Linked DNA regions of Homo sapiens: region 2 is linked to region 1. Evidence: fine-mapped expression QTL. Tissue or cell type: whole blood. Region 1 holds a variant in brackets; the other region holds the start of a gene. All regions are shown on one strand. Distances are from middle to middle. Region 1 holds the start of MIR3649 (microRNA 3649). Region 2 holds the start of ADIPOR2 (adiponectin receptor 2).

What was found.
Region 2: ADIPOR2 starts here. The variant in region 1 is fine-mapped to the expression of ADIPOR2 in whole blood (TOPMed, PIP above 0.99).

Annotation. Positions count from the first base shown.
Region 1 is chr12:1,658,031-1,673,993 of GRCh38, forward strand. MIR3649 (microRNA 3649) reads right to left here and starts at 2,350; the gene lies at 2,285-2,350. RefSeq lists silencers at 3,844-3,943, 4,034-4,123 and an enhancer at 11,084-11,133. The variant G/A (reference allele first, on the strand shown) is at 9,547.
Region 2 is chr12:1,681,727-1,697,689 of GRCh38, forward strand. It overlaps ADIPOR2 (adiponectin receptor 2), which reads left to right and starts at 9,344. Exons shown (of 8, transcript NM_024551.3): 1 at 9,344-9,465. It also overlaps the pseudogene LOC100533654. RefSeq lists enhancers at 8,847-9,006, 9,027-9,076, 9,160-9,738 and silencers at 9,237-9,536, 9,557-9,646.

The sequences.
Region 1 (15,963 bases):
GGACTGTTGTGAACTGACCCAGTAACCACAGGCTAGTTCTTTGTCTTCCAAGCCCCTTATTGCTTGTTTCCAACAAAGTAGTCAAAAACACTTTCTCTGCTAAACAAACTTTTTTTCTTTTTTGTAACAAAAAAGACCAAAGATAGAAATACAGCATGGCTTTCTTTTTTCCTTTTTTTTTTTCTTTTTTTTTTGAGATACAGTCTTGCTCGTTGCCCAGGCTGGAGTGCAGTTGTGAGATCTCGGCTCACTGCAACCTCCACCTCCTGGGCTCAAGCGATTCTCCTGCCTCGGCCTCCCTAGTAGCTGGGACTACAGGCGCATGCCACCACGCCTGGCTAATTTTTGTATTTTTAGTAGAGATGGGGTTTTGCCACGTTGGCCAGGCTGGTCTCAAACTCCTGACCTTAGGTGATCCGCCCGCCTTGGCCTCCCAAATTGTTGGGACTATAGGCATGAGCCACCGCGCCCAGCCTTACAGCATGGATTTCTAAACAGAGTGGCTATTTGTTGCTGGGACAGGTAACTGAGAGGATAGATTTCATTCCCCAGAGAAGTTTAAGAAAAGAAGAGCATTTAGATGTTTTTAGAATTTAGTAGAGTCTAGAGCCAGGGAGAAAACCAGACATTCTCTGGAGATTCATTTCAGCTAGAGGGTTCTGTGTGTCCCATCTCCCTTTCAGGGATTAATCAGCCTCTAAAAACAGCAAGGGCACAAGATTCAGTACAGAGGACCTGGCTTCCCAACCAACTAGTTAAGTGATTCAGGCAGTTTCCTCAGCAATAAAACAGAAATAATACTCTCTCTACCTCAAATTAAATCATATGGATGTGAAAGCCTTTTGTAAAATATAAACTTTTAAAATATTGAGGCTGGGCATGGTGGCTCATGCCTGTAATCCCAGCACTTTGGGAGGCTGAGGTAGCAGGATTACTTGGGCCCAGAAGTTTGAGGTTGCAGTGAGCTAGGATCGAGCCACTGTACTCCAGACTGGGTGACAGAGCAAGACCCTGTATTAAAAAAGAAAAGGGTAATGGTATATCTTACATAGATATAGATAAGTGTATAAGATATAGCTTGCTTATATCATGGCAAGATCAATGAAAATATGCTTTTTAAAAAAGTAAAGTTTATTATGTAAGCTCTTGGGAATCATCTCAACTGAAGCCAACCACAAATGCAAGGGGTCTAACCTTGATGATCTGGATTTGTTTGGTCTTTTGTATACCCAGAAATCCACCATCCTTCTCTATGTTGGTCTTGGTCTTTCCTGAGAAGGCCAGTACCTGAAAAGTGAGCATTCCACCTTCCACCCCGCCATCACATGGGAGTCTTTTTTTTTTTTTTTTAAATCCCCAGTCTGTTTACCACTTTGTCCTAAGAATCAAAGACTTAGGAAACTTTTTTTTTTTTTTTTTTTTGAGACAGGGTCTCACTCTGTCACCCAGGCTGGAGTGCAGTGGCGTGATCTCAGCTCACGGCAACCTCTGCCTCCCAGGCTCAAGCGATTTTCCTGCCTCAGCTTCCTGAGTAGCTGGAATTACAGGCACGCGCCACCACACCCGGCTAATTTTTGTATTTTTTTTTAGTAGAGACGAGGTTTCACCATGCTGGCCAGGCTGGTCCTTATCTCCTGACCTCAAGTGATCCACCAGCCTCGGCCTCCCAAAGTGCTGGGATTACAGGCGTGAGCCACTGCTCCCGGCCAAGGAAACTTCAAGAAGGCAAAGGCAAGGAGGCCCACCCCTGGGCCCTCAGAGGACATGGACAGGGAGCGGACTCTGAAAGGAGCTCTGGGAATGGACTCTGCCCCCTCTAGCCCCCAGGGCCTGGCCGCCTACACCCAGCTGCTTCTCCTCACTGGCCTCTGCCCCAGGACATGGCAGCCACATCAGGGACGTGGAGCTGGGAAGCGTCCCCCCTTCTCACAGAAGGTCTGTGACAGTGGAGAAGATTCCCAGGATCTCAGGCTAGAAGTTGGAAGGCATTTTCTGAGGGCCACATGATTCCACCAGCTGGAGTTTTCTGTTCCCATTGTACAGTCCTTGATTTCTGGGACACAAGATGTTCTTTTAGGCTTTCCTGAATAACAAAGATCACACATACACTTGTTTATCTGGGGAGATGCCTTCCCGTTCTAAACAACTGACTTACAAATTCTCTTTCTGAGAACAATGCCCATTCATAAGTTGGGAACATTCTGTATGAGTGACTTCTGGCTGGGAAGGCACAGTTCTCAGGAGGGGGAGGAGTTCTCAGGAGACCCCTGTAAAGTGGGCCTGTGCTTAGACACTCAGGTCCCTGTGTTTGCTAGAAACACTTGGGCACACACAGGTGCCTGTTCCAAGCCTTCCTCCCAAGGAACACACCTGCGCATGTGAGTCACATGTCCCGCCAACGTGCCACCTAACCTTCACCCTGAGCTGGGGAGTATTGAGTAACTGTGTCGTCAGCAAAGTCACCCCACTGCTTGGGTAACACCTTCAGATAGTATCCAGGCCAAAACATGTTAAGAAAAAAAATTCACTCACAGCCAGAACACTTATTCCTGTTTATCTTTTAACAATGCAAGGGTAGGGAAATTGTTTGGAAATCAAAACGTGGAAGTTCGTTCATCCTCCCAACTCGTGGAGTTCTAAGGCAGAGACTGGCTAAGCTTTTGTGGGACCTAAAAGTTATATAATCAGGGTGGGGCAGTTTAAATAATTACAAATACGGAATTATGAACAGGGCCTTAGAAGGCGAGGGAGAGGCCCTGAAACTTGAGCTTCATTCACTTAATGGAAAATCTAACTCTGATTCTAGGGGAAGAATCTAGAAGATTCCATGAAAATACAATGTTATAGAGCTTTAAATGACTTTCCCTAAAATACTTTTAATACTTCTTGCCTTAGTGGATCCTGGCTTTTCTTTGACAGTGTCATTCAGTTGAAAACCCTCTGGGTAAAGGCTCTTCGCCTCCTGGCAGCCCCATGCGGGCGGGAGGTGCTGCTCTCAGGGTCTTCACACCCCACTGTTGCAGCCCTCCGCCCACCCGTCTCTCCAGCCGGACCATCCTCTCTGCATTTTGGTCCCTGTCCTCCGCCCACCCGTCTCTCCAGCCGGACCATCCTCTCTGCATTTTGGTCCCTGTCCTCCGCCCACCCGTCTCTCCAGCCGGACCATCCTCTCTGCATTTTGGTCCCTGTCCTCCGCCCACCCGTCTCTCCAGCCGGACCATCCTCTCTGCATTTTGGTCCCTGTCCTCCGCCCACCCGTCTCTCCAGCCGGACCATCCTCTCTGCATTTTGGTCCCTGTCCTCCGCCCACCCGTCTCTCCAGCCGGACCATCCTCTCTGCATTTTGGTCCCTGTCCTCCGCCCACCCGTCTCTCCAGCCGGACCATCCTCTCTGCATTTTGGTCCCTGTCCTCCGCCCACCCGTCTCTCCAGCCGGACCATCCTCTCTGCATTTTGGTCCCTGTCCTCCGCCCACCCTGGGGCCCTTCTGCAAAGCACTGAGGTTCGGGGCGCATGGACGTCTTCCTCCCAGCCCCTCATCCGCCAGCGAGCTGAGCCGCGCCCGGGCCCCTGTCACCGCGCCACCGCTCCTTCGGGACCTGAAGCCTCCGTGCTCAGCGATCCCCCTGCAGCCCACTGCGACCCCCACCCTTGCTGCGCCCTCCGCCTCAGCACGGCCCTCCCGGAGCTATGTGCCCTCCCTGACTTCCTCTTCGCCCCTCCCCTGCCTGGCTCTCCCACTGCCAGTCACCCCAACCCCGCCCCAGCAGCAGCCTCGAGTTCCCTCTCCCCTCGAAGGCCTCGCGGCGGACTCGGAGCGGGGCAGGGAGGAGGCGGGAGGCGGCGGGGGGCGGGGGGCGGGGGGAGGCGGGAGGCGGCGGGAGGCGGGGGGCGGGGCCGCAGCTCCGCCCTCGGGAAATGGCTCCGCCTCCCTCGCCGGGAGCTGCCTTCAGGGGCCGTATGCAGCGACTCCCCACCCCGCGGGCCATGCCAGCGGACGGGCACCTCCGCGGGCGCAGAGCGAGTCACACGTGCATCCTCTCGCCCTTCCCCCGCTGCACCGCCCGCTGTCCAGCCCTCTCCTGTTTTCTCCCACTGCAGAGCTGGCTAAAGAACACTGCAGACTTGGGCCAATTTGCCCCTGCCCAGATTCCTGATTCCCGGCCTCGCGGCCCCACCGCTGTCTTCCTCTCCCCTCCCGGACTTCCTGTCGCCCCCAGCCCCAGCCCTCTGTGGCCGCGGCCTGCTCTGCCTGAGCTGCGCCTCCGGAGGTTCCGCCGCCCCTTCGCCTCCCCCTCCCCACTTCCCGCCTCCCCCCTCACTTCCCGCCTCCCCCTCCCCACTTCCCGCCTCCCCCCTCACTTCCCGCCTCCCCCTCCCCACTTCCCGCCTCCCCCTCCCCACTTCCCGCCTCCCCCTCCTCACTTCCCGCCTCCCCCTCCTCACTTCCCGCCTCCCCCTCCCCACTTCCCGCCTCCCCCTCCCCACTTCCCGCCTCCCCCTCCCCACTTCCCGCCTCCCCCCTCACTTCCCGCCTCCCCCTCCCCACTTCCCGCCTCCCCCTCACTTCCCGCCTCCTCCTCCCCACTTCCCGCCTCCCCCTCCTCACTTCCCGCCTCCCCCTCCTCACTTCCCGCCTCCCCCTCCTCACTTCCCGCCTCCCCCTCCCCACTTCCCGCCTCCCCCTCCTCACTTCCCGCCTCCCCCTCCTCACTTCCCGCCTCCCTCCTGAGAGGTCCGCTGTCGGGAGAGAGGACTCGGTGTGTGCTCCGCTCGCCCTCCGCGAGATTCCCTCAGGGCACAAGCAGCGCTTCCTGAAGCTCGGTTAGCCCCTCACCCACCAGCTGCAAGGACGGGGACCCTGCCTTTCTTATCGCGCATCGCCCAGGCCCTGGCCGGGAGGAGGGCCTCTAACCGGGAGGGGCTGCCCGCTCTTCCGTGCCCCGCCCCGCAGCGCACCTGCCCGCGAACATGAGGCAGCCGGGGGTCCGCTGGGGCAGAGTGCGGAGTGAAGGGGTGCACTGGGCACTCAGCGCGGCCCTTGGGAGGCAGGGCCGCCCCAGCCTGCCCTCCTGTCTGGGAAGGCCGTCCAGAAGCAGGAGCCCCGGGGAAAACAACTGGCTGGACGGGGCGGCCTTCAGTGTCTCTCCCAGCCTGAGAGTCGCTTCCCACCACCTGGGCACGAACCTGCTCTGCGATCTCCGGCAAGTTCCTGCGCCTCCTGTCGGTAAAATGCAGATCGTGGCGTCTTCCCTGTCCCCTGTGAGGATCGTGAGCCTATGCGTGTGAGGCCACCAAATCCCAATTCGTATGAACGTGCTGGAAGCAAGGGGGTCAGAGCACTTAGCGGCTCTCTCCTCTGGTGGGGAGAAAACAATGATTTTCTTAAGGACACAGTTTGATGGCGGAGGCTCGAGAGCGGCTACAGTTGGGGCCACTGGAGAGAGAGATGGCCTCTGGAAGAGGGTGCTGAGTTATGTAGTGGCCGATTCACTGCAGGCTGCCTGCTAGATTGTAGGCTTGCTGAAGGCAGCACCAGTTATCTGTCGCACTGTTCGCTACAGAATTGTCCGCACCAAGCACAGCATGGACTCTGTTAGCAGTGCAGCAAACATTTGATGAAGGAAGGAAGGAGGGAATTAAAGGAGGAAGAAAGGAAAGGAGAAAGATAAAAAAGGAAGAAAGGAGGAAGGGAAGGAAGGAAGAAAGGAAGGATGGAGGGAAGGAGGGAAGGAAGGAAGGAGGAAAACAGGAGGGAAGGAGGGAAAGGAGGGAAGGAGGAAAACAGGAGGGAAGGAGGGAAGGAAGGAAGGAGGAAAACAGGAGGGAAGGAAGGGGGAAAGGAAGGGAGGAAGGAAGGAAGGAGGCTGCTTAGGGGTAAAACGTCTGTAGGGAGGATGCAGCCGGGCCACGAGCTAATAGAAGGTGCAGAATGTCAAGCTGCTGAGATGGACCATGGAAGGCAAGAAGAATGAGGGAATGCCCACCCAGTCCTCAATGACAAATAATGATCTTGTTTTCTTTTGCTTTTTCCTCGATCTTAATTTTTAATCCCCAATGGCTGAATGATGGTGTTCTGTGCAGACATTTGTGTTCGGGTAGAGAGAAGGGGAAAGAATGGCTGGGACTGGCCCACCATGGCCTTGGGACTGGCCCACTATGGCCCTGCCCTTACAAACTAGAGGAGAGTAATTAAATGAAAACGATGACAAGGATGTACATGTAAAACATTTAAAGGCTGGGCACAGTGGCTCACGCCTGTAATCCCAGCACTTCCGGAGGCCAAGGCAGGTGGGTCACGAGGTCAGCAGTTCGAGACCAGGCTGGTCAACATGGTGAAACCCCATCTCTACTAAAAATACAAAAATTATCCAGGCGTGGTGGTGGGCACCTGTAATCCCAGCTACTTGGGAGGCTGAGGCAGGAGAATCTCTTGACCCGGGAGGCGGAGTTTGCAGTGAGTCGAGACCATGCCATTGCACTCCAGCCTGGGTGACAGTGGGAGACTCTGTCTCAAAAAACAAACAAACAGCAACAACAAAAAACATTTAAAGACACACAAGGCCGGGCGCAGTGGCTCTTGCCTGTAATCCTAGCACTTTGGGAGGCTGAGGCAGGAGGATCGCTTGAGCCCAGGAATTTGAGACCAGCCTGGGCAACATGGTGTAAACGTGTCTCTAAAAAACATAGAAAAATTAGCTGGGCGTGGTGGTGCGCACCTGTGGTCTCAGCTACTCAGGAGGCTGAGGTGGGAGGATCACTTGAGCCCGGGAGGTCGAGGCTGCAGTGAGCTATGATCTCACCACCGTACTCCAGTCTGGGTAACGGAGCAAGACCCTGTTTCAAAAATAAATGAATGAAATAATAAAAATTAAGAACACACAAAAGTAGATTCAAAATATTACACACACTTTTACACCTGTACCTCTCTCTCCATCTTTGTGTATTGGAATGCATGAGTCCACACTGATAATCTCCAAGTCCAGGCCGACAGCATGAGTGCATTCTTGTTTTCTCCCTTTCCCTTCTCTGCCAGTAAGAAACCCGGCTCCACAGGGAGTGAAAAGAATGAAAAAGCAGCAGTAGGTCACTAAGGTCCCAGCTTCCCTGTGCCAGCCCTGCCATGGTGCCTCCAAGGATGCAGACCTGCCTGGGGCAGAGGTCTTTAAGGAGACCAAATTGGAACCAGAAGTTTCTTCAGACTGAAAGAACTCCAGGAAGTGTCAGTGGTTAGGGCAGATTTAGGATACCCTATAAATATACAGTAGGGCAAAGTTAAGTCAAGGGCCCCTGGAGCCTTCGGGGTTATGTTGAACCTCCAGGGTTCACCTGGATTAACTCTGTGGTGGCTTCCAGCTGTTGATCTCACCCTAGACCCAGGAATCTGAGGTATGATTTGAGTTAGAAATGGGAAGTAGGGGAGAAATGAAGAAAATTAGAAGAAAACAGTAAATGTATCACCACTTAAAAACATTAGTATTGATAAAATTGACTTCATAAAAATTAAAAATTTCCATGTGGCAAAAATAGCTGAGTCATAAGTAATTAACTGGGAAAATATTTGCAACACATATGACAGTTAATTTTCTTCACATGCAAAGTACACTTAAGAGTGAATAAGATAATCAGCCCCAAAGAAAAATGGGCAAAAGACCTTAAAAAACCGCAGAAGAAGAAATATATCTGGCTTTCTTTTTTTTTTTTCGAGACAGAGTTTTTGCTCTTGTTGCCCAGGCTGGAGTGCAATGGCATGATCTCAGCTCACTGCAACCTCCGCCTCCCAGGTTCAAGTGATTCTCCTGCCTCAGCCTCCCAAGTAGCTGGGATTACAGACATGTGCCACGACGCCTGGCTAATCTTGTATTTTTAGTAGAGACGGGGTTTCTCCATGTTGGTCAGGCTGGTCTCGAACTCCCGACCTCAGATGATCCACCCACCTCGGCCTCCCAAAGTGCTGGGATTACAGGCATGAGCCACCACCCCCGGCCTGCCTGGCTTTCAAACACATGAGAAGGTGCTTACCCTCACTTATAATAAAAGAAATAATTCTATTATATTTCTAATACATTACCAATACATGGTTTCCAATACATAAATTCAAAGTATAAGAGGTATTTTTTATGTATTAGATGAATAAAAATTAAAAATTTTGATAAATTTGTATGTGAAAGAAGATGTGAAGAAATAGGTGTTCCATGCATTATTGGTGGAAGTAAAAATTGGTGCCCTTTCTTTGAAACTATCAAATGCACATATCTTTTGATCCAGTAAGCCCGCCTCTACAAAATTATCCTACAGATACACTCACGCATGTGCACAAAGATATCGGCACAAGAAATTTCCTGCGGCATTATTTGAGGAGCAAAGTCTAAAAGAACCTGAATGCCTGCCAGTAGGGGGAAGGGATATTAAAAATGATTATTGTGCAAAATGATGCTATATATTGTTCACAGATGTATATATGTATGTATATGACATATAAAAAATTACAGAAAGGGTGTAAATAATTTCCAGTAGCGCTCCCCTCTAAGGATGGGAGGAAGGATGCAGGACTGACCACAAAGGCCACAGAATATTTCAGACTTCATCTGTAGCATTTTACTTATTTTTATGTAAAAAAAGAAAAAAAACAGCTATACTAAATGTTTTTTATCAATTCTGGTTGGTGGAGACTTCATTTATTACACTCTTATTTTTATGTATTTTTTCCAAAAAGCATGATACAGGGGGGTGGGTATAAGATGATATCTTTTGTGTAAAAAGAGGCCCCCTGAGCTTGTTTATGTGTAAATGTCCCTAGAAAGACAGTCAAGGTCACAGTGGCTGGTGTGGCAAAAGGCAACAAGGAAGTGGGTGGGGAGACTGGTTTTTCATTGCACGTTCTTACTGCTTATATATTTTGCCATTTGAATGTTCTGCTTACAAAGAATGATTATAAAAACAAGCAAACAGAAGGCATGCCTCCTGTGCCTGAGAGGACGGGAAGGGGAAAGAAAAGGCTGCTTTCCCTTCTCTGAAGCCTTTGCCTGAGGCCAGTGGGTAAATACTGATGCTGAGAGGAGGGAGGAGAGAAAGGCAGAGAGAGACAGAGACAGAGATGGAGACACACACACACAGAGAGACAGAGACACACAGAGATGGAAACAGGGAGAGAGAGAGACAGAGACGGACAGAGACAGAGGCAGAGAGAGACAGACAGAGACAGAGAGTCCCCTGAGAGGCTGGTCTGCTTTGGAAATATTCATGGTTTGCCCAGAGGAGCAAGCAATGTGGGCCAAGCTAAGAGCCTTGAGAGCTATTAACACACCAAGTAGGTAGTGACCCAGGCAGGAAAAAACACTAAGAAATGTCCAGTGTGGGCCAGGCGTGGTGGCTCATGCCTGTACTCCCAGCACTTTGGGAGGTTGAGGAGGGAGCATCGCTTGAGGCCAGGAGCTCACGACCAGGCTGGGCAACAAAGTGAGACCCCCATCTCTCCCAAGAAGTAAAAAAAAAATTAGCCAGATATGGTGGTGCATGCCTGTAGTCCCAGATACTTGGGAGGGT[G/A]AGGCAGGAAGATCACTTGAGCCTGGGAGGTTGAGGCCGCAGTGAGCCATGATTGCGCCAGTGCACTCCAGCCTGGGCAACAGAGGGAGGTTCCATCTCAAAAAGAAAAAAATATATATCCAGTGTGGCCAAGATATTTTAGGGTGAGGAGAAGGATCAGGAAGCCTCCTGGCCAGACTTTCAGCCTGCAATCCTATCCTCAGTATCTGAGACTACCAAATCCTCAACAAGAAACAAAAACTGAGGGTCCAAACGATGAAAAACAAACCGTAAAGAACGAATTACCCACGTGAATAAACTTTGAAGGCGTTGCGCTAAGGGAAATGAGCTAGTCACAAAGGACGACTACTCTCTCTACGATTCCACTCATATGAGGTACTACGAATAGTCAAATTCAGAGACAGCAGAACGGTGGCCACCAGTGGCTGGCAGGGCAGGATGGGGCGTTAGTGTTCAATGGGGACAGAGTTTCAGTTGGGAAAGAAAGAAAGTTTCTGTAGATGAATGGTGGTGATGGTGGCACAAAAATGTGAGTGCACTTAATGGCACAGAACTGTTCACTTGAGCATTTTAAAATTGTTATTTTTTTAGAGACAGGTTCTTGCTCTGTCACACAGGCTGGAGGGCAGCGGTGTGATCAGAGCTCACTATAGCATTGAACTCCTAGGCTCAAGTGATCTTCCTGCCTCGGCCTCCCAAGGAGCTGGAACTACTTGCCCAGTGTGCCACGATGCCCAGATAATTAAAAAAAAAAAAACCTTTTATTTTTATTTTTATTTTTTTAGAGATGAAGTTGCTATGTTGGCCAAGCTGGTTTCAAACTCCTGGCCTCCAATGATCCTCCCATCTCAGCCTCCCAAAGCTTGGGATTACAGGTGTCAGCCACTGTGCCCAGGCCTACTTAAAAATCGTTAAAATAGTATATGTTATTTTATACATATTTTACCACAATTTTAAAAATAAAAGAGTTACCCTCCCAGTTGACTGACAATCCTGGTATGCCTAAAACCTTTCACTAGACATTTAACCAGTCTTACTACCTCCTCCTGATCTTCAACTAAACCCTCCTCTGTCTTTTTCCTGTAAATTTTCTGCCAACACTGTGAAATACAACTTTGATACACACTTACATATGTTTTAAAAACACCTAATAACAACAACAGAACTAAACTAAAAATAACAGACAACTCCCATGTGCTGGAGGCAGTGAATCTCAGGTTTCCTTCACACAAAGCGGAAATGGCCAGTAAACCCACTTTGTTTCCCCACTGGCCAAGGGAGAAAAGCCGCACTGCAGACACCCACCCGACCCTTCGACCTCCAGACAGACACAGTGCTTTCTAACAAAACAAAAACAAACGAAAAACAACCCAACGGCTTAAAACCACAAAAGAAACCTTTACCCAATCCAAGCGACCCCTTGCTTCCGTTTGGGCAGATGGCATTTCACCACTTTTTGACCTTTCAACCAGTACCCTTGCTGAATTTCTTTCCAAAGCCAGAGTCATAATACGTGAGAGCGAGCATTTCTCAAGTGCTGGGCTTCAGGGAGGGCCCTGGTCTTTGGACGGTGAACAGAACTGGGGCAGAGGGAGTCCTATCTCGAGGAGATGACGCTGCTGCCCTACAGTAGCCAGCGCTGCTTTTGTAACTCTAGCGATGGCCCAATCTCTGATTGCCCCCACTCTGATCAGCCCTCTTTATTTTAGTCTCGCCTTTGAAATAAGTCTGGGTGACAGCCAAGATGTCCAGTGGCCAAGTCATGCTATGCCACTTCTACCAATGAGATGGTCCCTCCAGCCTCAGCCAGCAGAGACTGTCCTCTGGACCTAGAGCCCCACGAGTGGTGCCACGAGAGCAGCACCTGGGGCCCCACGACCTGGAAGTGTAATTAGTTTCAGACTCAGATAGAGAAATGGAAAGTCCTGATATTGATTGGAAAGCCTAGTTATAATATTCCTAATCTGGCTTGATCCTTGTCTAAAAAGACCTTTTATTTTAGTTGTAGCTTATTTGCCTGGCAAACAGGAGCTCTGGTTTAGGGAGGAGGAATGGGAATGGGGAGAAGTAGGCTATTATAATAATTGAGTACAATTTGAATCCTTTACACATTATGGCTTTTTCGTTTTTTTTTGTTTTTGAGATAGTCTCGCTCTGTCACCCAGGCAGGAGTGTAATGGTGTGATCTTGGCTCACTGCAACCTCCACCTCCTGGGCTCAAGCGATTCTCCTGCCTCAGCCTCCTGATCAGCTGGGACTACAGGCACCTGCCACCATGCCAGGCTATTTTTTTTGTATTTTTAGTAGAGACAGGGTTTCACTATATTGGCCAGGCTGGTCTCAAACTCCTGACCTCATGATCCACCCGTGTCGGCCTCCCAAAGTGCTGGGATTACAGGCGTGAGCCACCGCAATCGGCCCCACATTATGTTTTTAATCACCCTCAAATAGATGCTAATAAGTTGTCAGAAACATCATGAGCTGTTGCTGGGATACAGCCCTTTCACAGCCCAAAGAGCCCCTTGACACATCTTGTTTTTTTCTGGTGAAAAAATAAGAGGACTCATTTTAGTTAGACTCATTCACAAAAACCAGGCGGGCTCATTCTAGAGTCATATGGCCTCCAAAAGCTCAGACCAGAAGCGTACTGTGCTCCTGTCACACTCTAATCTGACTCTCTTTCTGGAAGAATTTGGAGAGGTGAGTGCCAATATCATATTACTTTCTCAGGCTGAGAATTTGAGGGTGGAGTCCGGCAGGCTCCTGAGGGAAAGAGAATAAACCAGGAGGAAAGGGGAGCTCGAGCTCGGCCCTTTGGTTTTCCTTGGAGGCCTTGCTTGGGGGCCAAAGGTTCTTGGCCTGCGTCCTCCCCTCCTTCTCCCTGGGCACTCAGTAGCAGAGTGCCAGCCTCGCTTCCACTGCAGGCAACCCCACACTGCCCCTCGGGCATCCTCTCCCCCTCACTCACTCACAGCTCATTCGAAAAGGCTTTACTCACCAACTTTAAGTTAATTGCTTCAACTAAATTACACCTTTTTTTCATATGAAGTCGCAGATGTGTTCCCAGATGGTGCCTGGCCTGGTGTTCTGAGTCATGGGTCTACAGAGGCCGCCACACCTTGACACCTGGTGAAAGGTCGCCACAGTGCCCTCGCTTGTGATTAGCCCTTTGTAAGTGCAGTGCTCATTTTACCCTGTGGTTCTGAACAAGCAGGAATGACTGAATCCTGAAGTTGAAGTAGCGTAGCTTTTCCCTGAGATTCAGATGTGTTTACTTTTACACCTTTAAAAAAAAACAACTTTATCAATACAGCTTCACAGACATCACTGCTCCCGCCGTTGCTTTTTCTAGCTTTTAAGGCTGGACATATACCAAGCAAGCTCCCCATCACCACCAGGCCCTTGCCCAGGTCCACAACAGGGATCAGAAACTTCAGCCTAAGCCCCACTGCTGTGGCTCAGGTGCCATCAACAAGTCTTACCAAAGCAGGAACTTTTCTAAGCTTCTAGAATGTAGTTGTCATACCTTGACTAGCTGTCATCAACTCCCTCCCCACGGAATAGTAGCTCTGCATACCTGCTGAGATCCTGCCATAAATGGTCAGGCCACCAGCAATTACACTGTTGCCACACCCTGACTTTTTTTTTTTTTTGAGATGGAGTCTTGCTCAAGGAACTTAGTACTTCATACACCACCACCCTATCTAACATGCTATTTTGCAGTGATACTTCATATCTTTACATATCCATCATCAATGTAACATACAGTTATACAGCGAATGCATGTTTAGATTTATTTAAAGCTTTATTAGTTTCTTTGCTCACCATTGCTTTCCATTTTTTGGAGGGATCACTCTTTTTTTTTTCTTTTGTGTGCATGTGTATGTGTATGAGAAACAGATCATACATGAAAAATAAATGAAAAACTATGCACATATCGCAGTATTGGTGGATGAATACTATGATGTCTGAGATACATCTCAGAATAATCTGGGAGGGGAGAAAGTGAGTGACGGTGGAGATAAAATAAAATTGGTTGTGTACTAATAATTATTTAATAATTATTAAAGTTGTGGCTGGGTGCAGTGGTTCACACCTGTAATCCCAGTACTCTGGGAGGCTGAGGCAGGTGGACTGTTTGAGCCCAGGAGCTGGAGACCAGCCTGGGCAACATGGCAAAACCCTGTCTCTACTAAAACTACAAAAATTAGCTGAACGTGGTGGTGTGGGCCTGTAATCCCAGCTACTTGGGAGGCTGAGGTGGGAGGATTGCTTCAGCCCTGGGGGCGGAGGTTGCAGTGGGCCAAGTCTGTGCACTGCACTCCAGCCTGGGCGACAGAGCAAGACCCAGTCTAAAAAGAAAAAAAAAGAAAAATTGAATTTGTGTACTGATACTTATTTAATAATTATTAAAGCTGTGGGCCGGGTGCGGTGGTTCACGCCTGTAATCCTAGCACTTTGGGAGGCCGAGACGGACGTATCACGAGGTCAGGAGATCGAGACCATCTTGGCTAACACGGTGAAACGCCGTTTCTACTAAAAATACAAAAAATTAGCCGGGCGTGTTGGCGGGCGCCTGTAGTCCCAGCTACTCGGGAGGCTGAGGCAGGAGAATGGCGTGAACCTGGAAGGTGGAGCTTGCAGTGAGCTGAGATCGCGCCACTGCACTCCAACCTGGGGGACACAGCGAGACTCCGTCTCAAAAAAAAAAAACAAAAAAAAGCTGTGTACTAATAACTATTAAAGCTGGAGTATAGATACAGGGAGCTAGCTCTATTTTTGTATGTGTTTGACATTTTTGTATGTGTTTGTGTTTGAAATTTTGTATGTGTTTGAAATTTTACATGTTAAAGGATATAGAAAAAAGTAAAAGGTCCTGGGGCTCAATGTTCACCCTGCAGCTGACGAGTTGTGTCACTTTTTTTTTTTTTTTTGAGATGGAGTCTTGCTCTGTCACCCAGGCTGGAGTGTAATGGCGTGATCTCAGCTCACTGCAACCTCCGCCTCCCGGGTTCAAGTGATTCTCCTGCCTCAGCCTCCGGAGTAGCTGGGATTACAGGTGTGCACCACCACGCCCAGCTGATTTTTGTATTTTTAGTAGAGAAAGGGTTTCACCATGTTGTCCAGGATAGTCTCCATCTCTTGACCTCAACTGATCTGCCCGCCTTGGCCTCCCAAAGTGCTGGGATTACAGGTGTGAGCCACCGCGCCAGGCCCGAGCTGTGTCACTTTTTATAAGTCACTTCCTTCCTCTGCACCTTGGTTTCTTTCTCTCTAAAATAATGCAGTTTGACTAGACAATCATTTAAGATCCCTTCCTGCTTTGACAGGGTGAGATATCATTAATCTTTTGTGTTGTTTCTGTTATTTTGTTTTTTACTAAGATAAAATTTACATCCCATATAATTTGCCTTTTTTTTTTCTTTTTTTTTTTGAGATGGGGTCTCACTCTGTCGCCCAGGCTGGAGTGCAGTGGCACAGTCTCAGCTCACAGCAACCTCTACCTCCCAGGTTCAAGCGATTCTCCTGCCTCAGCCTCCTGAGTAGCTGGGATTACAGGCGCCTGCCCCAACGCCTGGCTAATTTTTGTATTTTTAGTAGAGACGGGGTTTCACCATGTTGGCCAAGCTGGTCTTGAACTCCTGACCTCAAGTGATTTGCCTGCCTCGGCCTCCCAAAGTGCTAGGATTACAGGCGTGAGCCACTGTGCCCAGCTGTGAAGTGGTATCTTGTTGTGATTTTGACTTTCATTTCCCTAATGACTAATGATATTGGACATTTTTCATGCCCTCTTATAGATCTTCTTTGAAGAAAAGTCTATTCAAATCTTTTGCCCATTTTTAGATTGAGTTATTTATTTATTTATTTATTTATTTTGAGACAGAGTCTCAGTCTGTCTTCCAGGCTGGAGTGCAGTGGTACAATCTCAGCTCACTGCAACCTCTGCCTCCCAGGTTCAAGTGATTCTCCTGCCTCAGCCTCCCAAGTAGCTGAGACTGCAGGTGCCTGCCAGTATGCCTGGCTAATTTTTATATTTTTGTAGAGATGGGGTTTCACCATGTTGGCCAGGCTGGTCTTGAACTCCTGACCTGTGACCCGCCCTCCTCAGCCTCCCAAAGTAATGGGATTACAGGTGTGAGCCACCACACCCAGCCGAGTTATTTATCTTTTTATTGTTGAGGTATAGGAGCTCTTTATATATTCTAGATATAAAACCCTTATTAAATACATGATTTGTAAATATTTTCTCCCATTTTGGGTTGTTTTTTCGCTTTCTTGATACATAACAGCCTTTACTTTTGGTGAAACCTAATTTATCTAATTATCCTTGGTTGCTTGCATTTTAGATATTATACCTAAGAAATGATTGCCTATTCCAATATCACAAATATTTACCCCTATATTTTCTTCTAAGAA
Region 2 (15,963 bases), 24 kb after region 1:
AGGTCTTTGACTTTTTCTAGCTTTTAATGACCAAAGTTTTCAGATAATTGAGTTTCAGGGCTATCTGATCACCTTTGTTGGGTCAATTTTGCCTCTCCTCAAATGCCTGAGAATGATGTTTTTTTCATGTATTATTTTTGGGGTCTCTACTTTTTTTCTTTATCCCTTCCTTGCACAAATAACTGCCAGTTCCTGAAGCCACTGCCCCCAGGAATTTGCTTCCTGTAACAACAGGTACTTCTCTGTCTGGGCTCTCCCTCTGGAAAAAGCTCATTCAAGGATCCCCTGATTCCAAAGTGCCAAGTAGAAATTGTATAAATTGAATTAATTCAGATGCTGTGTATCAGGCTTAAAATCCAATAGATATGTAGGTAATTGTCTGAATATTTTCCGCAGTAAAAGACTGAAGTCTAAGGTCTAACTCCCATTGCAGTACATAAATTGCAGTGCCCAGTGCAAAGGGAAAATGAAGGGTCTCTTATTCAAAAGTTATTAAAAATTTCAAGACAGTAACAACAGAGCATCAAACCAAGAATAGGGGCCAGGCGCGGTGGCTCATGCCTGTAATCCCAGCACTTTGGGAGGCCGAGGTGGGCAGATCACCTGAGGTCAGGAGTTCAAGACCAGCCTGGCCAACATGGTGAAACCCCATCTCTACTAAGAATACAAAAAATTAGCTGGGTGTGGTGGTGCATACTTGTAATACCAGCTACTTGGGAGGCTGAGGCAGGAGAATCGCTTGAACCTCAGAGGCAGAGGTTGCAGTGAGGTGAGATCGCACCATTGCATGACAGCCTGGGCAAGAAGAGCGAAATGTGGTCTCAAAAAAAAAACACAAAAAACAAAACCCAAGCATAGGGCACTTTCGAGTACAGGGCCCCGAGCAACTAACTGCATAGGTCATCCACCTAGGAAGCCAGGCCTGCATGGAGCCCACGAATCAGAATCTTTGGAATCTGACTGGAAAAAAAAAATCTGACTTTTGGGGCCTACCAGAATCTCTGGGATAATATCTGGGAATTGCCTTTTTTTTTTTTTTTTTTTTTTTTTTAAATACAGGATCTTGCTCTGTTGCTCAGGCTGGAGTGCAGTGGCTTGATCATGGCTCACTGCAGCCTCAATCTCCTGGGCTCAAGCAAACCTCCAACCTCAGCCTTCCAAGTAGCTGGGACTACAGGTGTGCTCACACTGGTTATTTTTAAAAGGGTCTCACTATGTTGCTCAGGCTGGTCTCGAACTCCTGGACTCAAGTGATCCTCCTGCCTCAGCCTCCCAAAGTGCTGGGATTACAGGTGTGAGCCACCGTGCCCAGCTGGAATTAACATTCTTAATAAGCTCTCTAGATGTTGACTTTTGAGAATCTCACACCTATTTTCTTCATTTGCTTGGGAAGAAGGAAGAGCAATGTTGGGTTTTTGTTTGTTTGTTGTTTGTTTGTTTTTGAGATGGAGTCTCGCTCTGTTGCCCAGGCTAGAGAGCAATGGCGCAATCTCGGCTGACTGCAACTTCTGCCTCCCAGGTTCAAGCAATTCCCCTGCCTCAGCCTCCGGAGTAGCTGGGACTACAGGTGCACCACCATGCCTGGCTAATTTTTTGTATTGTTTAGTAGAGACAAGGTTTCACCATGTTGGCCAGGATGGTCTTCATCTCCTGATCTTGTGATCTGTCCACCTTGGCCTCCCAAAGTGCTGGGATTACATGCATGAGCCACTGCGCCTGGCTCATTTTTTTTTTTAAGAGACAGAGTCACCCTCTGTCACCCAGGCTGGAGTGCAGTGGCATGATCATAGCTCAATGTAGTATCGATCTTCTGGGCTCAAGTGATCCTCCCACCTCAGCCTCCTGAGTAGCTGGGACTACAGGTGTGTGCCAGCCACCATGCCTGGCTTTTTATTTTAATTTCTGTAGAGATGGAGTCTCACTATGCTGCCCAGGCTGGTCTTGAACTCCTGGGCTCAAGTGATCCTCCTGCCTTGGCCTTCCAAAGTGCTGGAATGACAGGTGTGAGCCACCATGCCTGGCCAATTATCTTTTCTTTTCTTTTCTTTTTTCTGAGACAGAGTCTGGTTCTGTTGCCCAGGCTGGAGTACAGTGGTGGGAACTCAACTCACTGCAGCCTTAGCCTCCTGGTTTCAAGCAATTCTTGTGCCTCAGCCACGGAGTAGCTGGGATTATAGGTGTGTGCCACCATGCTTGGCTAATTTTTGTATTTTTATTAGAGACAGGGTTTCGACATGTTGGCCAGGCTGGTCTCAAACTCCTGACCTTAAGTGATCCGCCCGCCTCTGCCTCTCAAAGTGAGCCACTGTGCCTGGCCCCAATTCTCTTTTAAAAGTGTTCGGCTTGCTTTCCTAGATGGGCAACTGACAGCACTTATGTTGCATCTCTAGCAGCATTTCTTTGAGCTCTTTTACTCTTTTTCTGTTTTCCTCTTTCTCCCCTATCCTCTTTTGTTTTACGCTTGTCTTGGGCCTGCCCGCAATACCTCAGGTGTGGCTAGACTTGGCTGACGACATCCAAGGCATATGAGATTATTAGAGAAAGTTTGAGGGGAAGGAGTAAGACTTTTGATAGTCTGGATTTTTCATTAAGAATTTTATTTTTGCTATAGCCTGCTTTTCCTACCCAGTTTTGCTTTTGCTTCTAATCTAAACCAAAAGAAAAGGAAAAAAAAATTTTGAGAAACAAAGTTATGAGAACAATCTCAACCCCTACCTCAGTGATTATTTAGTCACAATCATTGGAATTCAATTCCAGATCAGTTCTTCTTCCTCCACCGTAAATGCCTGCCAGTCCTTGCAACTTATTTCTGCAAATTGTCACTTCACCAGATTGTGACCTCAAGGGCTCAGGGATTCATCCTGTATAACTTGATGAAAGTATTTATATCAAACTATCCTGACTAAACCTGGTCCTGAGTTCTGAGTTTAGCTATACATCATTGAGATATTGCAAGGTTAATAAACCTCTTTAGATTATGGATTTAAAATTTTAGCACAACAAATAAAATGCTCTTTTTTTGGCTTACAGTTCTGTGTGTGTGGGTGAGCGCATAAGCAGTCACTGAGTAGAACAGATGCTGTCTTGAATTTTTTCTTAATAAAAAGATGACAGATTTTTAATTACTGGGTGCTTCTAAATTACTTAAGAAATGACATTTTTCTTTATTGTTTTCACCTGTATTTCCTGTTGTTCCGTAGTTGTAGCTTCTAATACGCATCTTTATTACTCTCTATTTTTAAGGTAATGAAAACTTTGTGTTTCTATTTTCATTCTCACAGCAAAGGAGAGATTAAATGGAAACAACCCTTTATAACTTTGAAATATTATGTAATCCTGGCATTCTTAAAAGAATTTTTTGCTTGCCTTTTACTTTGGCAAAATACTTGTATCTAAAGATATATAAAGAACACTGATGGCCAGGCATGGTGACTCACGTCTGTAATCCAAGCACTTTGGGAGGCCGAGGCAGGCAGATCGCTTGAGGTCAGAAGTTCGAGACCAGCATGGTCAACATGGTGAAACCCTGTCTCTACTAAAAATACAAAAATTAGCCTGGTGTGGTGGCACACACCTGCGATTCCAGCTATTTGGGAGGCTGAGGTATAAGAATTGCTTGAACCCAGGAAGCGGAGGTTGCGGTGAGGAGAGATTGCACCACTGCACTCCAGCTTGGGTGAAAAAGTGAGACTCTGTCTCAAAAAAAAAAAAAAAAAAAAGAACACTTATGGCTCAATAATAAGAGGGAAAACAGCCCATTTTAAAAAATAGGTAAAAAGTTTGAACAGACACATCACAAAAGAAAATATAAGAAAGGCCAATAAACACATGAAAAGTCTCAACATCATTAACAATCAGAAAAAGGCAAATTAAAACCACAATGAGATAACACTGACATACCCACTAGAATAGCTAAAATAAAAAATTTGACAATACTAAGGGTTAGCAAGGATGTGGAACAACTGGAAATCTCATATATTGCTGGTGAGGGTGTAAAATGGGGAAACAATTTGGCAGTTTCTCATAAAGTTAAACATAAATTTATATGATTTTGCTAATTCACCCCCTTATCAAAAGTAAATGAAAACACATGTCCTCTAAAGATTTGTACATAAATGTTCACAATACCTTTATTTATAACAATCAGGGACTAGACGTTGGGCACAGTGGCTCACATTTGTAATCCCAGCACTTTCGGAGGCCAACATGGGAGGATCGCTTGAGGCCAAGAGTTTGAGGACAGCCTGGGCAATTTAGCAAGACCCTGTCTTTACAAAAAATAATAAAATTAGCGAGGCATGGTGGCACATGCCTGTAGTCCCTGCTACTTGGGAGGCTGATATAGGAGGATTGTTTGTGCTCAGGAGATCAAGGCTGCAGTGAGGTACGACTGCATCACTGCGCTCCATCCTGGGTGACAGAGTGAGACCCTGTCTCACAAAACAACAACAACAAAAACAAGAAATTACCCAATCATTCATCAATAGGTGAATGGATAAACAAATGGAATACTACCTAGCAACGGAAAGTGACGAACTATGATGAATGCAATAGCATGAATGAAACTCAAAAACCCCATGCTGAGAGAAAGTCGACAGAGCAAAAGAGTACATATCGCACGATTCCATTAATGGGAAATTCTAGAAGAGGCAAAAGCATTCTATAGTGGCAGAAAGAATATCAGTGGTTGCTTGGAGCCAGGCTTGGGAGAGGAAATACTGACTCCAAATAGGCACAGGGGGATTGCGGGGGGTGTTGGAGATGTTGTATATTTTGACTGAGGTTATGCTTCCACGGGAGTATACATTTTTCAAACCTCATTTGAACTGTACACTTAAAAAGAGGGTGCATTTTATATAAAATATACTTCAATAAAGTTGTTTTTCTCAACTACTAAAAAAGTTCAGAGAAGCCTCTAATATATGTCCATGTACATACCACCTAGGATTCATAAATGTTAAATGTTTTGTTACTTGCTTCATCTTTTTCATATAGAAGAAATGAAATATTACAGATAAAGATGATCTCTCCATAGCTCCCAGGCTTATTCTTCACCCCTTCCCACCGGCAAGTACATTCCTAAAGTTGTATTTATCCTTTCTGTCCATCTAAAACATGTATTCACCGACATCTTCATTTTATTGATGAAGGTATCAAAGCTTAACAAGAGCTAATGCATAAGCCATAGATAAACAATGCCTTTGTCAGCAGCACAGCCAGTAATGATGTTCTATCTTAAGTTCAATCTGCAGGACTATGTTATCTAATCTGCGTTTGAGGAGCTGCGAATGTAATTTATGTAATTATTGGAGTGTTTATACTGGTCTTTCTCTTCAGTTTTTTTTTTTGTTTTGTTTTGTTTTTTTTTTTTTTTTTTGGAGACGGAGTCTCACTCTGTCGCCCAGGCTGGAGTGCAGTGGCGCCATCTCTGCTCACTGCAAGCTCCGCCTCCCGGGTTCACACCATTCTCCTGCCTCAGCCTCCCAAGTAGCTGGGACTACAGGCGCCTGCCACCACGCCTGGCTAATTTTTTTGTATTTTTAGTAGAGATGGGGTTTCACTGTGTTAGCCAGGATGGTCTCGATCTCCTGACCTCATGATCCGCCCGCCTCGGCCTCCCAAAGTGCTGGGATTACAGGTGTGAGCCATGGCGCCCGGCCCTGATTAATGTAGTTTTAAACAACATAACAATTTGATATCAGTGATTCGTTTAATTGCAATTAAGATGGAATACAGATATTTATGTATTTCCCTCTAATTTTCTCAAGTAGATTACTAGACTATTTGCAAAGCATCTAACACCACTGAATCCTAAATAGCTGGCTGGATTTCACTGTTCTATGGACACTATATGAGACAACCAGAGGGACTGATGTGACGACATTCCTTGCCCTTTCTTTTGATTTATCTTTTTTATGGTGTATCTTCTATGTTGTCCAGATTTCCCCCTCAGTTCTAATGTTTATATTTTGAAAGCTGATAAATATTGGAGCTGAAAAGAAGAGTTTAGGCTAGAATTAAGTATTTTGTAATAACGAAGCTGTTAATTTCCCTTTGTAATTTTTTTTTTTTAAACTCACAGACACAGGTCTCTGAAAGAACACTCTAATTCTGGTTTTCACTGGCGAAGTAATTTGTCTTTTTTCCTTCTTAAAAATAGATACGATTCTGATAAGAAAAATGATAGCTTGTCTTTTCTCTATAAGAGAAGCAATATAAACCAGTTTCAAACTCAAGTTTAAATTTGCACTGGGATCTAGGGTATTTTTTCTTTCAGAATTTGAAAGTTGGCTCGGTACAATGGCTCACACCTATAATCCCAGCACTTTGGGAGGTAGGAGGATTGCTTGAGCCCAGGAGTTTGAGACCAGCCTGGGCAACATAGTGAGACTCTCTTTTTATGAAAAAAAAAAAAAATTTAAAGCTGAACGTTCATTTGCTTTTAGCTTTAGATACATATTCTTCTTCTTCTTTTTTTTTTTTTTTTTAGAGATGGGGTCTCACTCTGTTGCCCAGGCTGGAGTGCAGTGGTGCCATCATAGCTCACTGCAGCCTGGAACTCCTGAGCCCAGTGATCCTCCAGCCTTGGCCTCTGGAGTAGCTGGGACTACAGGTGCGCACTACCATGCCTTAGATACATATGCGAATCTCATTGGCTATTGCCTTGGATATCACAATGGAGTTTAACTCTGTCCATCATGTCAGCAATATACTATAGTGTCACTGGAGCCACAACTGGATTATGGATGTGACTCACCTAGTGATGCGCCATCCTTTTCAATAACATCTGATAATTGCAGAGATGACTACATCAGACTAGTTGAGCCACAGGGTACTGTTGGGTCACTGGTGACTGGCATGTGGGATAGGGGTGGAAGGGAATCTTTTTTTGGTGCTGCAGAAGATAAAGGGCTCTACCCTCCTGTGGAGTAGTGTGATACCCCAAGAATGGAGAGAACAGAAATTCTAAGATACGCAGCTGATGCTGGAGGTTAGAGAATTTTACTGAGTTTTTCTTGTTTTTTGGACAGCTAATCAGAAGACAATATATAAAGTTTAGTAACTGAAGTATGGTCAGGGAGAGGGCCTGAAAATTCTGCTTTGGAATATTTAATGGTGACATTTAGATAAGGGTTAAGGGTGAAGCCAGCCTTATGGATGTGGGGATCAGGGGAATGTTCCTCAGGTGCTCAGGTCAGGGACAGTGGCAACATCCTCAATAGTTAAGGAGGTGTGGGTATTTTGAGGAAATGATGTGGTTTGTTTCATCACTATATAAGCATCAGGAACTGGCAGTAGTGATATGTGAATGGGATCAAGGTAACCGAGAACAAGATGTGAAACTTTAGGGAAATGGTAAGTCTGTCTTTCATCTGGTTCAGCACACGGTGAACTGTTCCAGAGGTAGCTTCTTAAAGCCCTTCGTTTTGTCAAACCAGAATCTTTTTTTTTTTTTTTTTTGAGACAGAGTCTTGCTCTGTCACACAGGCTGGAGTGCAGTGGCACGGTCTCAGCTCACTGCAACCTCTGCCTCTCAGGTTCAAGTGATTCTCCTGCCTCAGCCTCCAGAGTACCTGGGATTACAGGCACGCGCGACCATGCTTGGCTAATTTTTTGTATTTTTGTAGAGACGGGGTTTCGCCATGTTGGCCAGGCTGGTTTTGAACTCCTGACCTCAAGTGATCTGCCCATCTCGGCCTCCCAAAGTGCTAGGATTACAGGTGTGAGCCACCACGCTTGGCCTGGAAACCAGTCTTTAAGAGAAAGGGATGCAGGAAAGATTGGAGATCTTTGAAGAATCTCTTTTTAAGAAAATTATCTTTTTCGCTCTAGTTCTGTCACCTTTAGTAGACTCTTTATTAAGCCTAAGAATCTTATACTTCTTATCTCTGTTCTATGTGAGTTGGTATAACGGGTCAAATTCACAATCCAGAAATGCCTGTATTGTTTCTGATGTGCTGAGGAGGTGTACAATTGTCTTCCTTGATTTCAACCTCAAAAGCTTTACATCTTTACCTGGGAACATAGAAGTCATTATTATTATGTCTTTCACAAATTATGTAAACTTAAAAAAATTATATTTTCAATGTAAACCACTCCTTGGAGGAAATTAGTTCCTTTAACATTTATTTCCTAATTTTAATTTCTACTAGTTTTATCTCTTTCAAGCTTAAATGAGTGGGCCTTAGTTCTGTATTATTGCCATCTTAATCATGTTCTTTGTGATTTTAGTAGCTTTACTTTTTAAAACTTACATTTCCATAATGAAGACTTCTGTATTTTTGTTTTTTTCGTCATATATCCGACTCCAGCTCCCTCAAGACCTGTCAGCTTTTCCCTGCACCCTTTGTTATCTCTTGCTGTGGTCCAAAGGTAAGGACAGTAAGCCGTGGGCACAGACTTTCCCTAAATCGTATGGATTTCCTTTAGTCAATAACAAGAATTTTGATAGTTAAGGCATTTACGCCTTAAGAATGTGATAAATTCCCCCTCCTACTGAATGTAAAGAACTATTTTTCTACGCAGACTAACTCTTATATTCACTTTTCTTATAGAATAAGTACGTAACCAAATCTGTTCTTGGCTTCTAAGAAGTTAGAACTCAACGTAAAGATGACTTGTGGAAAATTACTTACTCATTCTGGGTAAATGGACGCAGGTATTTAGTGCTTAAGTAGGTTCTGATATACCATTACATTAACATCATTTTAAAAATCGCTCTGAATTATATGTATTTTAAGAGTGACTGGGTTTTAAAAAAAATAGAAGTGGTAGAGCATAAATCATAATCTTTAATAAGGTAATAAAAGGCAAACACTATTGCTCTGGGCAAAACTGGGCTAATGCTTTTGGATTTCTTTCCGCAGTCTTCACAGACGACGCTCAGCATCCTATCAGCCCTTGGCAGAGACACACGATCCAGCCTAAATCCTCAAATTCTGGCTCTTGCCCAAAGTGTGTAGCCAGTATCCATAGAGACTGCGAAAAGCATCCGCGAGCCGGGGCGGCCCCCTCCTCCTCAGCTCCAAATTGCTTCCTTTTTCGGTGGGAGAAAAAACTCCGAGGAGTTGTGTGAGCGCCTAAGGAGCGCACGCTCCTCCGGCCCTCAACACCCAGTATAGTTTTCGCTAAGTTCCTGGCCGAACCACAGCTCCCACGATGCACCCAGGTTTTAGAGCGGTCAGAGGGGCGGCTTCCGGTTTAGGACAGCGCGGCTGCGCACGGCGTGTGGTCTTATTGGCTCGAACCGCCTCGTGCGATGCGCGTCACGGCGACGTGCGGTCGTGGGGGCGGGGAGACGCGGCGGCGGCGGTCGCTGTCGCGGCGGCGAGAGCGCGATTCCAGAAGCGGCATCGCGGCGGCGGCAGCGGCGGCGGCTACACCGGGCTTGGCCCCCTCCCTCCTCCGTTCCCCCCTCCTCCCCCCTCCCCTCAGCGGTGGCTCCCAAGAAGTCCGAGACACGCGGTGAGGCGGCGACGGGCTCCGGGTGAGGGTCTCTGGAGTGTGGGCGCCGTTTCCTGGGCGCAGAGGGAGAGCTTGGGGTCGGGGGGAGGTGAGAGCTGAGGGGCGAATGTCCCTGGCGCGGGCGGGAGAGCGCGCTCTCGGCCCGGCCCGCAACTTGATTCCTAACTCTGACCTGCCGCCCGGCGCGCCTTGGCCTGAGGGTCGGCCGTGTGGGGACCTGGAGCCGCCCTCCTTGCGACCGCTGTCGGAGGAGTCCGGCGCCCGCTGTTCCCCTCGCCTCGCCTTTCGCGGCGGAGGGTCGGAGCCTGCTGCCCTCTGCTCACCTTCGGGTGCAGTTGCTCCAGCTCCCTGCCCGCGGAGAGGATCTGCCCGCCCCTCTTCGTCTCTTGTCTGTTTTTATCACTTCTAGGAATTTGTTTGGTGGAGGCTTGGGATGGGCTCTCTCAGCGCTACTTTCACAGTGACTGGGGTGGGGAAGAGTTCCCTCACCTTTTTCAGGTGGCGCGTCAGGCAGCCTGCTTGGTACCTGGAGTCCTGTTTTCCCAAGCCCCCGTCCGTCAGTGTTCGCTTCTTCTAAAATTACCGATGACAGGGTTATAAATCAGTTTTTAGGGGGCTCGGAGAGAGTTTGGGTTGGAAACTGTTAGCTCTTTTTTCCTCCTGGCTTTTGATCTTGATTTAAGCGTTTGCCTCTGAAATTTTGACAACTTCATAAGATGGTCCAAAAGTGAATTTTGGTAGAAAGATTTAAATGCACAGTTGGGATTTTATGGGGGTACGGTGACTTCATTGCAGGTTGTTGACTTTTTTTTTAAAATAAGATGTTCTTTTAATTTTTTGACTCTGGGTTTCTGAGCCTTGGTTATTGTCCCCCATTTCTGTTCCAAAAGCAGACTTTTTTTTTTTTTATCACCCCTTCCCCTCACCCAGAGAATCCCTTTAAACGCCAAGAAAGCTGTCATAACATTTAGCATTATTTGATCACAGAACTTTTCCAAATGAAATGCTAAAAATTCCTTCAGAAAAAAGCATCCATCTACCCATAGCATTATTTTTTGGGGGGAGGCTATACGTCTTGTCAGTTCTGAAAGTTTGAAGTGACCTCTTATCAAAGGCCACCCTTATGTCTCCTTAAACGACTCTTAGGTAATTCCTAGATGTTTTCATCCGTTCTGATAAATTTGTTGTCAGAGTGTTGATTGTGATGATCTGCAACTAAAATTATTTCATCAGTAAAGATTTCCACACATGTGGCAGCTGCTTGTTGGTGAATTATGAAATTTGAAAAAATTGCAAATTAAATGTGAAAGGCATATTTCTTTTAACTTCTGATTGTAACTGTCTGTCCTCCAGTATACGTTCCTATCTAGACTTTGGTCTGCTTAGCAGATTTCCTCTTTTCACTTGACACTAGGAATGGGAGTAGGATTTCCAGAGCCTAAAAGAGAGTTTGTTTTTTTTTTCTATCCCTAGGCTCCTTGTATGAATTTATAAATAAATGGTTTTTTCTATCAATAGTATCAATTTAGCTGGTGCACTTTTTTTTTTTAGTATAAATCACATTTTGTTTCCTAAAATGAAAATAATTTTGTTTTATTCTTTATTTCAGGGATTGACAGATTTTAAAGCCTGCAGGCCCAGTCCTGCCAGTTGCCTCTTTTTGTAAATAAAGATTTGATTAGGCCTGGTGCGATCGCTCACGCTGGTAATCCCAGCACTTTGGGAGGTCGAGGCGGGCAGATAACCTGAGATCAGGAGTTTGAGACCAGCTTGGCCAACATGGTGAAACCCCGTCCCTATTAAAACTACAAAAATTAGCCGGGTGTGGTGGCGCACTCTTGTTATCCCAGCTGCCCGGGAGGCTGAGGCAGGAGAATCGTTTAAACCCGGGAGGTAGAGGTTGCAGTGAGCCAAGATTGCACCATTGCACTCCAGTCTGGACAACAAGAGCGAAACTCCGTCTTAAAAAAAAGAGGAAGAAAAAAGTTTTTATTAGAACATAGCCATATGCAGTCGTTTAGGTATTGTCTGTAGTTTCTTTTGGGGTACAGCAGCAGAGTTGAGTAGTTGTGCCAGAGAGCCATGTGGCCTGTAACACCTTATATTTATTTACTATGTGGACCTTAATATAAAAAGTTTGCCGAGCTCCATTAAAAATGATACATAGTCAATGTTGAAAATTTAAATGAGTCAGAAAATTGTAAAGGAGAAAGTAAAAGTTATTTACAAGTACACCACTTGGGGCTTTTTTTCTGTGATTATAGAATTTGTTGGTGATTATTTTTTATATAAATGAACTCAAATTGATAAATGTTGGTTTGTAATCTGCTTTTTTTTTTTTTTGTTCATTTTGTTTTTTGAGACGGAGTTTCGTTCTTGTTGCCCAGGCTGGAGTGCAATGGCACGATCTTGGCTCACTGCAACCTCTGCCTCCTGGGTTCAAGCAATTCTCCTGCCTCAGCCTCCCTAGTAGCTGGGATTACAGGTGTGCGCCACCAAGCCCGGCCAATTTTTTTTTTGTATTTTTAGTAGAGACGGGGTTTCACCATGTTGGCCAGGCTGGTCTCGAACTCCTCATGTGATCCACCTGCCTCACCCCTCAAAGTGCTGGGATTACAGGTGTGAGCAACCGTGCCCAGCCCTGTAATCTGCTTTTTTAAGAAGTATTTCATTATTTGTATTTGGATTTTGATTGCTTTTGTATTTTCTGCATTGGAGGTCTTTCTAGAAAGGGGCTTATGAACCGGGTTTTCATGATTAGTCTTACCAGTCAAGATTTAAAAAGAAAATCCAGGAATAATAAATGCTTGGTAATGAAGATGCTGGTTAACATTTATTGAGCACTTACTATGTACTAGACAATTTCCACTACTTTACGTGTATGAAATTATTTAATTGCTGTGGCAGCTCTGTGAGTGTATACTATGATTTCTGTTTTACAGGTGAGGAAACTAAGGCAAGGAGAAAAATTAAGTAACTGTTGGAAGTTTATCAGCTAGCAAATGGTGGAGCTAGGATTTGATTTCATGCAGTCTGATTTGAGAAACCCAAATTCTTAACAATATGCTACAGAGCCTCTACTTACATTATTGCTCAGTGTAGAAAGTTTAGACAGTCCAGAGATATACTGTCATCCCTTGGTGTCTGTAGGGACTGCTTCTAGGACCTTTGGTGAATATCAAGATGCACAGATGCTCAAATCTCTGATATAAATGGCATAGTATTTGCATATAACCTGTGCATATCCTCCCAAATACTTTATATCATTTCTAGATTACTTATAATACCTAATAGAATATAAATGCTATGTAAATAGTTGTTATACTGTATTGTTTGGGGAATAAAGACAAGAAAAAAAAGTCTGCATGTTTCAAATACAGATGCTATATTAAACTTTTTGGATCCAAGCTTGGTTGAATCCACAGACATAAGAGCCCATGGATATGGAGGGCCAACTGTATAATGTAAAAAAATTCCTTCTCATGCGCTAGTTTCCAGTTTTCATCCTTTGTAGATAACCAGGGGCAACAGTTTGATATAGGTCTTTTCACCTCTCTTTGTGTGCATATACAAGTAATTATTTGCAGATTTGTCTGCATATTCAGAATTTAAAAATTACACTTTTTTTTAGCAGCTTTAGATGTACAGAAATTTGAGCCGATAGCACAGAAAGTTCCCATATTCCCTTCCCTTCCCTCGTTTCTCCTATTGCAAACATCTTGCATTAATTTGGCACATTTATTGCATTTGATGAGCCCATATCAATATGTTGTTATTTATTGGTCTATAGTTTACATAGGGCTTATTCTTTGTGTTGCAGTTTTTTTTTTTTTTTTGTTTTGTTTTTTTAAGATCTCACTCTGTATCTCAGGCTGGAGTGCACTGGTGCCGTCATGGCTCTGCAGCCTCGACCTCCCGGGCTCAAGCGATCCTCCCACCTTAGCCTCCCAAAGTGTTAGGGTTACAGACATGAGCCACTGCACTTGGCCGAGAGTTATTTTTTACAAAAATGGGATCAAGCCCAGTGGTGGCTTGCGCCTGTAGTTCCAGCTACTTGGGAGGTTGAGGTGGGAGGATTGCTTGAGGCTAGGAGTTTGAGACCAGTCTGGGCAACACAGCATGACTCTGACCAGTCTGGGCAACACAGCATGACTCTGTCTCTTAAAAAAAAAAAAAAGTGGGCTGAGGGTGGTGGCTAACGTCGGTAATCCTTGCACTTTGGGAGGCCAAGGCAGGTGGATCACCTGAGGTCAGGAGTTCGGGACCAGCCTGGCCAACATGAATGAAACCCCCTCTCTACCAAAAATATATTAAAAAAAAAATTATCTGGGTATGGTGGCGCGCGCCTGTAATCCCAACTACTCAGGAGGCTGAGGCAGGAGAATCGCTTGAAACTGGGAGGTGGAGGTTGCAGTGAACCGAGATTGCACCACTGCGCTCTAGCCTGGGCAACAGGAGCAAAACTCCATCTCAAAAAAAAAAAAAAAAAATGACGAAACCCGTCATTCAGCAGTCATTCACCTTTTTTGGTGGTTTTCAGGATATAGTGCTTTTGGACTTTCTAATGTAAACATTCTTGATTTACTAATTTTCAGATTAATGACAATTTATTTTGGGAATGGAAGGCTGGCTTGGATGTTACTTTTTCTCTCTTTTTATTTTTCTATTTTTTTTTTTAAGTGTATCTCATAGTGGCAGCAGCTTTTCCCCAAAGGAATGCTTATTTTTTTTGACGGGACATTCTGGCTATACCTAATCATCAAAGTTCTTCTTTTTTCTCTTTATCTCTGGATTTGGAAAATGATTCATTTTGGTTTTCTTCCTCATAAATTCTTTTTGGTCTGTCCAGCCATTGCAGTTGCTAGTCATGTCTCCTTGTCAGACTTTGGCTTTTTATGACTGTCATCAATGTTAGAAAAAATTACTTGCTCCTTATCACTATTTCAATACATTTCCTCTTGGGCTTTCCCTGGGGGCAGCACTGAATTTTTTCCTTAGTTGAGCCATGCAGATTTTCTAGAAGTCATCGTTTAGTTTGGCTTTTCACTCCTCCATGGGTGCTGTTCAGCTTCTAGGAGATTTCTTGCAGTTTCTACTTGTCAACAGATTCACCAGCAGCACCCTCCTCCTCACTGAGACTGGTGCTTCCCCACCCATCTTTATCATTTTCAGCCTTCTCTTTTTCTTTCTCTTTTCTTTTTTCCTTCTTTTTTTTTTTTTTGGTTACAGCGTCTTACTCTGTTGCCCAGACTGGAGTGCAGTGGTGCAATCGTAGCTTACTGCAACCTCCGCTTCATGGGCTCAAGTGATCCTCCCACTTCAGCTTCCCAAGTAGCCGGGATTACAGGCATGCACCACCATGCCTGGCTAATGTTTGTATTTTTTGTAGAAACAGGGTTTTGCCATGTTGTCCAGGCTGGTCTTGAACTCCTGGCCTCGAGCGATCCTCCTCCCTCAGCCTCTTGAATAGCTGGATTTAACAGGCAGGAGCCATTGTCCCTGGCCATATTCTTGCACTGTTGATTTTACTGGGGCCTCTGTCAGCTTACCCTGGAATTCTGCATCATCTGAGGATTTGGAAGAACTGAATCACAGTTATAGTAGACAGCATCATATTCTTATCCTTGTGTGTTTTATACTGGGACAGGTCTTGAGGAAGTTCTTCTGTCATGGCTAGGGGACATTGAGCTATTACCTCTTATAGCACTGATTTGGACTGTCATGTCTTCCCTAAAGTTCTTGTCCATAACATAATGGATGGTCACAGTCATGAGCAATAACTGAGTGATCTCTGGGACTAACAGGTGATGAAATGCATGTTTAGCAAACAGTGATTTCTGTTACTTCTCTGTGGTGCAGCAGCAGAAACTTTTGCCCAAAGGCATAGAAGTTAGAGGGCTTATGAATTTCTGCCAATCTGGAGATAAGATTTATGAGCATCATGTTAACTCAAACCTCTGCTTAGAGATTTCTAGCTGTGTGCTTCAGGAGTGTTTTGGTAAAACTTTGAGGATCATGAATAAAGCTAATAGCTTAAAAGTTAAACACTGTGAGTTTTTTCTTCTTTTGTTTCCTGGGCACTTTTCATAACCTTTTCAGTGTTTTGTGTTTGGAGCCACTCTTCCCAGTGACATACTGCACTTGTAGGTCTCTTGTCACTTTATCCTCAGATTCTGAGTCTGTCCTATTTGTTTCTCTTCTTCATCTTATCCTAGGAAGAATGTCAAGGTGGCAACCAATATCTCAAAACATGCAGTTGTGATGACATTGACAGTTTTGGCATCAGTCCGGATGTTTCTTGTAGAGTTCAGTCATCACATCCAAAGATATCTTGGCTGCAGTTACATTGCTGTCTCTTAACACGATGTATATGAAATTCTGCAGTACTATATCCACTTTATTCTTGTGTTTTACAGTTATATTCTTGCTATCAGTCACAACATGAGTATGTAAAGTCTCAAAAGCTTATTATGGCAACTTGGAAGTTCAAAAAAGAGC